Homo sapiens: one gene and its partner. The protein of the gene in region 1 interacts with the protein of each later gene in a pairwise test. Each region holds a gene or a part of one and is shown on either strand. Other genes may lie near its edges.

Region 1 (3,829 bases):
GGGATGCCTAAGGTATTTAAAAAAAAATATTAGCAAAATAAATGCCATACTATAAAATGTTTTAAAATATGACTTCAAGTAAGATTGATTAAAACAGTACTAAAGGCCAGCCGTGGTGGCTCACGCCTGTAATCCCAACACTTTGGGTGGCTGAGGCGGGTGGATCACCTGAGATCAGGAGTTTGAGACCAGCCTGGACAACATGGTGAAACCCTGTCTCAACTAAAAATACAAAAATTAGCCGGGAGTGGTGGCAGGCACCTCTAATCCCAGCTCCTCAGGGGGCCGAGGCAGGAGAATTGCTTGAACCCGGGAGGCGGAGGTTGCAGTGAGCCAAAATCAAGCCATCGCACTCCAGCCTGGGGGGCAAGAGCAAGACTTCGTCTCAAAAAAAAAAAAAAAAAAAGAAACAAGAAACAGTACTAAATATATACTTTGTGGCTATATTTCCAAGGAAAAGTTTTTCTTTTTAAATCAACTTTATCAAGGTCTAATTTTGCACACCATAAGTATATCATGTTGTACAAGTACCACCACAATCCAGTTTTAGAATGTTTTCATCACCCCAGTAAAATCCCTAATACCCGTTTACAATTAATCCTCATTCCTATCCTCAGCCCATTAGGGTGTACCTTCTGTTTCTATAGATTTGTCTTTTCTGTACATTTTATGTAAATGGAATCATATATCAAGAGAAAAATTTTAACTTCAGTAAAATACTTTTATAAGTCTTATAACCACTGAATTATTTTATTATTTATAATATATCAGATATTTATTCCCTTATTTACAGTTTCAAAACCCAGAGAATTTTGAAAACAAACTTTCAAAAAGTTTCTTGCCACAGCTAATTTGGCAGATTAGAAATTACAACCAGTAGAAAGAATGATTTTGCATGTTATAAAATTCACTTGTTAAAAAATGAGATGTAGCTGTTACCACAGTAACATTATATATGCATTCCAGAAAATACCTTTGTTCTGCAAAATGGTACATTTTTAAAAAACAAAACAAAACAGGCTTATGGGAAAAATAAGCTTGAGGTAGTCCATATAAAACCTGTGTAACTTTGTAATCAGAGGACTAGCAAAAACAATAATTGATGCCTCCACAAAATTTAAATAGGATTGGCAGGCAGCTGAGTGTGGCTGGAGGCTGTCTTAGGGAATATTAAAAATAAAATTGTGGGCTGGGCAGATTACACGCCTGTAATCGCAGCACTTTGGGAGGCCGAGGCGGGCAGATCACGAGGTCAGGAGATCGAGACCATCCTGGCTAACACAGTGAAAACCCATCTCTACTAAAAAAAAAAAAAAAAATTAGCCAGGCATGGTGGCAGGCACTGGTATTCCCAGCTACTTGGGAGGCTGAGGCAGGAGAATGGCGTGAACTCGGGAGGCGAAGCTTGCAGTGAGCCGAGATTGCGCCACTGCACTCCAGCCTGGGCGACAGAGCGAGACTCCATCTCAAAAAAATAAAATAAAATAAAATCGTGGAGGTGGTGCGCACCTGTAGTCCCCAGCTACTTGGGAGGCCGAAGTGGGAGGATCACTTGAGCCCAGGAGGTTGAGGCTGCAGTGAGCCAAGATTGCACCACTGCATTCCACCATGGGCGACAGAGTGAGACCCTGTCTCAAAAATAAACAAATAAAAATAAAAGTCATGGATTGAAAATGTTAGCCAGTGGGTTCTGAGTCAGTGCAGATGGTAGCAAGCTCTGAGCCAGTGGGACTGTTATTAAGTAGCAACTAGGAGGAAATGCAACCCAACAGAGTCATGGATCCACTCTGAGGCACGAATTGCTGGTGTAGGGAGTTATTTACACTTTTCTTATGAATAGATCTGAAAGCATATCTACCTGTGTGATAACTGAGTTGATGACTTTCTTTTTCTTGATGAAAGTTATACTTCCATTATAATTATAGCTTGTCTTGCCTAATATTAACTAATACAACTATAACATTTTTCTGACATTATTTCCTTTTTTAGCAATCGCATATAAGCATATTTGGTTTTATAAAAACACATGTTGGCCAGATGCGGTGGCTCACTCCCAGCACTTTGGGAGGCTGAGGCAGGTGGATCACCTGAGGTCAGGAGTTCCAGACCAGCCTAACCAACAAGGAGAAACCCTATCTCTACTAAATATACAAAATTAGCCGGGCATGGTGGCACATGCCTGTTAATCCCAGCTACTCAGGAGGCTGAGGCAGGAGAATCACTTGAACCCGGGAGGTGGAGGTTGTGGTGAGCTGAGATTGTGCCATTGCACTCCAGTCTGGGCAACAAGAGCGAAACTCCATCTCAAAAAAAACAAAAACAAAAACAAAAAAAAACATGTTATAGCAGAATAGACGAGACCAGCAGTTTATATTTGGCATTTACATACATCAGAAATCTTTTTTTTTTTTTTTTTTGAGGCGGAGTCTTGCTCTGTCGCCCAGGCTGGAGTGCAGTAGCATGATCTGGGCTCACTACAAGCCCCACCTCCCGGGTTCATGCCATTCTCCTGCCTCAGCCTCCCGAGTAGCTGGGACTACAGTTGCCCGCCGCCACGCCCAGCTAATTTTTTGTATTTTTTAGTAGAGACGGGGTTTCACCGTGTTAGCCAGAATGGTCTGTATCTCCTGACCTCGTGATCCGCCCGCCTTGGCTTCCCAAAGTGCTGGGGTTACAGGTGTGAGCCACTGCGCTCGGCCCAGAAATCTTTTTAATTACACTTGATTAAGGAATCATTTCATTGATTTTAAATTTTTCTGCAAATCCTTGGACAAGCCAGAAATATGGTAGATATTGGTGGTTTGATGTTCAAAAATGTGATGGAAGCCGGGTGTGGTCTCTCATGCCTGTAATCCCAGCACTTTGGGAGGCTGAGGTGGCCAGATCACTTGAGGCCAGGAGTTTGAGACTAGCCTGGCCAACTTGGTGAAACCCCATCTCTACTAAAAATACAAATATTAGCCAGGTGTAGTGGCAGGCACCTGTGGTCCCAGCTACTCGGGAGGCTGAGGCAGGAGAATCGCTTGAATCTGGGAGGCGGAGGTGGCAGTGAGCTGAGATCATGCCACTGTGCTGCAGCCTGGGCAACAGAGGGAGACTCCATGTCAAAAAAAACGGGGGCGGGGGATGGAAGTTCCTGTTTACTAATTTTTCATGTCATTTTGCTTTATAACAATTGGCATTACTGTGTTACCAGATAGATTTCTTACTGGATTAGACCCTGTACGTTTTTGTTGCCACTTTCCTTGGTGCTTTGAGCTTTTATCTTTTTTTTTTTTGAGATGGAGTCTCACTCCATCACCCAGGCAGGAGTGCAGTATCATGATCTCTGCTCACTGCCACCTCCTCCTCTCGGGTTCAAGCCATTCTCCTCTCTCAGCCTCCCAAGTAGCTGGAATTACAGGCGCCCTCCACCACACCCAGCTAATTTTTTTTTTTTGTATTTTTAGTAGAGACGGGGTTTCGCCGTGTTGGCCAGCCTGGTCTCAAACTCCTGACCTCAGGTGATCCACCCGCCTTGACCTCCCAAAGTGTTGGGATTACAGGCATGAGCCACTGCGCCCGAACGAGTTTTTATCTTCATTTGAAAAGACAGATACCTAAAAAATTATTTATATTTGATTATATATGGTTTGGAATCTTCTTTAAGCCACATAAAATCAAGAAATTAGGCTGATGGTACTTCTTTTGAAAGAGTAAATGAAGAGAGGTCTGCCAATGATGCATCAGAGTACTGAGAGCTTTCTGAGGATCATAAGTGAAGCCATTGTTATATATTAGCATTGACTTAGCACTCATGGCTTGGTAATATGTGTGTAGGCTGCTTTTG
Region 2 (3,829 bases), on another chromosome or scaffold:
GGCACTCATGCCACCTACAATTCTGAGAGAAAACAATAAGAAAGGAACAAAGGTTTGAGAGAGGATGGGATTTTAAAATATAAATCTAATTGGCAAACCCAAAACAAATAAAATTTATATAAGCTTAATAGTTTCTAATACTGAGACAACCTAACTGCATTCCTGAGAAACTAAAAATAAGTTATAATATGATAAGAATAGTTTTTAAAGTACTTTGAAAAGAAATTATTTCAGTATTTATGCCTTGATTTAATTTAATGTATATATTTTGTAGGACATATTTGTTATGTAGAGTTTCAGGCATTAAGAATTTCTAAAGCTAACATGATGTATCAAGATTTATAGCTACCACCTAATGTTTTCATTCCATCTGTTTGTACCTGGACTGAATTCAATGTGTCTTTTTATATAAAACGAAATCTGGTTACATGATGCCTGGCCCAATTTGCCAAAAATACAACCAAAAATTATAACTGAAATAAAAGAAATAAGGTATAATAAAATTATAAATATCGGTCCAGTTTGTAAGATAAATTATGGTAAGGTAGATTTTTAACTAGTAATGAAAGAAAATGTGTCTATACTTAAAGAAAGTAGACTGCTTTAAAAATTGCTAGATTGAGAAAGATACGGCATTTCTTTGGCTTTTTAGATTTTTCAAATAAATTATAGAAGTAGAGAAGCTTCGGTAGTGTATACATATTACTGAGTTGCAAGATAGTAAAAGAATCTTTAGCATGGTACATATTTCTTCTCAGGCTACAGAAATGCACTAGTTAATATTGCTGACTTTTAACACTAAATGCTAATTATTAATGCCTATTTCAGTTATATCTGGTCTCCAGGTTCTTTCCTGTTGAGGCTTCTGGGAATCTGTCTTATTTGTTACAATGGTCTGGTGATTCTAAGACCCCATCTGTTCCTGAATCAGTCTTAATTTATATGGTGATCATTTGTGAGCATTGGCTAAACCACTCCAACAATTAATATTCTTGATTGAATTTCATGGGGTGCAAAAAATTAAGTAGGTTGCTTTCCTTTGTATGATATGGTTAGAGCTTATAAACACAGAAGCAGGTGTGATATCTCAGAAAACAGATCAATTCCTTTTCACAATTTATAGAAGAGCTTTAGAGGAACACAGAAATATCACGCCTTGCCACAATTTAATAGAAGGATGTTATAAATCAATTATATGGGGCTTTCCATGCTCTAGCAATGTTTCAACTTCAAATCTTGATCAATATTATTAAATTAAATAATTCAAAGAAGAAATTGTTTAACAAATCTGTAAGCTTATCTAAAAGGGAAATTTGCCACTTTGGCCTAGTATGTCAGCATGTGTATACGTGGTATTGAAAATAAGAAGAGATATATGGGAACAATAAGACTATGGTCTGAGATTATTGTTTTTAGTGTTGTGTCATTTAATCGGGAATCCATATATTTTAGGGCAGATTATTGAGGATAAATAACCTACACCACCTACTACTGATAATAACCTATTACTGATATGTTATTAGCAAAATTGGTGTTTTAGCTCATTTAAGTTCTTGATGCTATTTTTAATACATGTATTTGTCCCTTTTACAGGTACCCTGGTTTTGCTACAGATTCAACTGTTGCTTTACTTATAGGGCTGCTATTCTTTCTTATCCCAGCTAAGACACTGACTAAAACTACACCTACAGGAGAAATTGGTTGAGTATCATTTATAATTCTGCATAAATTTAACAGAAGAGCAAAAATTACAAAATTCCATTGGTTTCGCTTGGCACCTAGAGCAGAAAGAAAGTCTATGCTGGCACAATCCCTGGCCTAGCATGCCCTATTTGCAAACTGCAATGCTGTCTTCAAGCCAGCACAGCTTCCACCTTCAAGAGAGATCGTCTTACTTTGCAGAAGTGAGAAGTAGATTTCCTTTTGTATCATGGCTAGGGCTCTGCTACAAGCGATACTATTTGACCCATGGTAAACTCACTTCAAAATTAATCTTACTATTGGCAAACAGAGGAAAAAGAACTTGGAAGACACTGCTTCATTATGATACCTTGGTAATAAATGCAGAGGATCTAAAAAGGTGATGAATTTCAAGAGAAAGAGTATTTACATTCTCAAAGTAGTTCTGGAACAAAAGCTAAATAAACCTCACATAGCCATATCCTAGGATCACAGCTGAAATAAAAGGGCCAGATGTGGTGGCTCACACCTGCAATCACAGCACTTTGGGAGACTGAGGCAGGAGGATCACTTGAGGCCAGTAGTTTGAAACAAGCCTTGGCAGCATGGTGAGACCCCAGCTCTATCAAAAAATTAAAAAAATTAGCCAGGTGTGGTGGCCAATCTGGAGGCCAACGCAGGAGGATCACTTGAGCCCAGGAGTTGGAGGCTGTAGTGAGCTATGATTGTGCCACTGCCCTGGGCAACAGAGGGAGACTCGGTCTCTAAAAATAATGATAGTAATAAAAATAAAGAAAAGGTATTCTGTGACAGCATTCATTGTATTTACAACACATGAACAAAGAAGTGTGCACATTTGCCTGAGCATACCATCCTCTCAACACACACACACACACACAGACACACACACTTTTTAAACACAAGATTCATCCATATCTTTGCTTTACAACACAGCATGTTTTGAGTAGTCAGATTCCTATCTTGTCAATGTGGGACAACTAATTTGTAATTGTCTGGAAATTAACTAGTAGACTTGTGGTTTTGTTTGTTTGTTCTTATGGGGATGGAACTGGGATTTATGTAGTTGTGTTGGCCCACTTGACTCTTGTCAGAATCTATAAATGACTAATGTATCAGATTTCCAGGACATATGTGACCAGCACAGCATAGAAACAAATGTACTTTGTTTTTCACTTGAGATTAGAATATCTCAATGTGTGTTAAGGAGGTGATGCAATATGGAGCATTGATTCCTATGGGACCCCAAGGACTCTGATCATTGCAGTCAAAGCCCTGAGGTCTGGCAGTGGCAAGTACTGAGGAATCCATGTTTGGCTTTAGCTTCCCTGGTTTCCACATCTGAATTCCCTCCCTTAGAAAGAGCCTTGCTCCTACCCACCTTTCTCTCTCCCCTCATTCTTCAAAACCTCTTCTCCCTGCTAAAGTCATTCATACAAGGCTTAAAAATGACAAATAATATATAAATATGTTAAATTTTAAATAAGAAGTACTTGTCAGAGATGTTTACATTTTAACAAGATATATGACCTTAAAGTAAGAAACCTGGTGACATAATTTCAGTTATCAGTGAGGATGGGTTTGGTTTGGATTTGGGGGAAGATGATAGGAAGGAAGCTTATTGGTAAACTTAAAATCTTACCATGTAGAAGGCTGCCTGTTATACACAAGTTAAATGGGCAGAATATGTCTCCAAATGAACTTCTTTATCAACAAAGCAATGGAGAGATCAGAAGCCAAATATAAAGAGAAATCTTTATGATAATCCTTTTATAAGCACTTTAAGAACCTCATAAATAATACTTTATTTAATCTGAATCTTGAATTATTTTTAAACTGAAATCTTGGTGAATCTATCATGATCCTCCTTATGACCTAAAAACTAATAAAATGTTCAAATATTAATGGATAATAATTAAAATGCTACAAGATGCTATTGGAACCAATGGAATATTATGGACATTTTGCATAGCAAAGAATATTATAGTCTAATGCACTGTGCTATTCACAGTTGGCAAAGATGTTAGTGGAATATAAATGAATGAGTGAGTGAATGAATGAGTACCATTATAAGTGACAATGTTATAATTTATTGAAATATATTCTATAATATTACCCAAAGGATTTTTTT

The links.
Region 2: the proteins of ACTR10 (region 1) and SLC13A1 interact in a protein complementation assay, tested with the Homo sapiens proteins (one large-scale study listed by BioGRID).

What each region holds. Positions count from the first base shown.
Region 1 is NC_000014.9:58,202,916-58,206,744, forward strand, and holds part of ACTR10 (actin-related protein 10), read left to right. Parts: coding exon 1-12; intron 13-3,829. UniProt on the Homo sapiens protein: Part of the dynactin complex that activates the molecular motor dynein for ultra-processive transport along microtubules.
Region 2 is NC_000007.14:123,123,440-123,127,268, reverse strand, and holds part of SLC13A1 (solute carrier family 13 member 1), read left to right. Parts: intron 1-1,593; coding exon 1,594-1,700; intron 1,701-3,829. UniProt on the Homo sapiens protein: Sodium:sulfate symporter that mediates sulfate reabsorption in the kidney and small intestine. Can also mediate the transport of selenate and thiosulfate.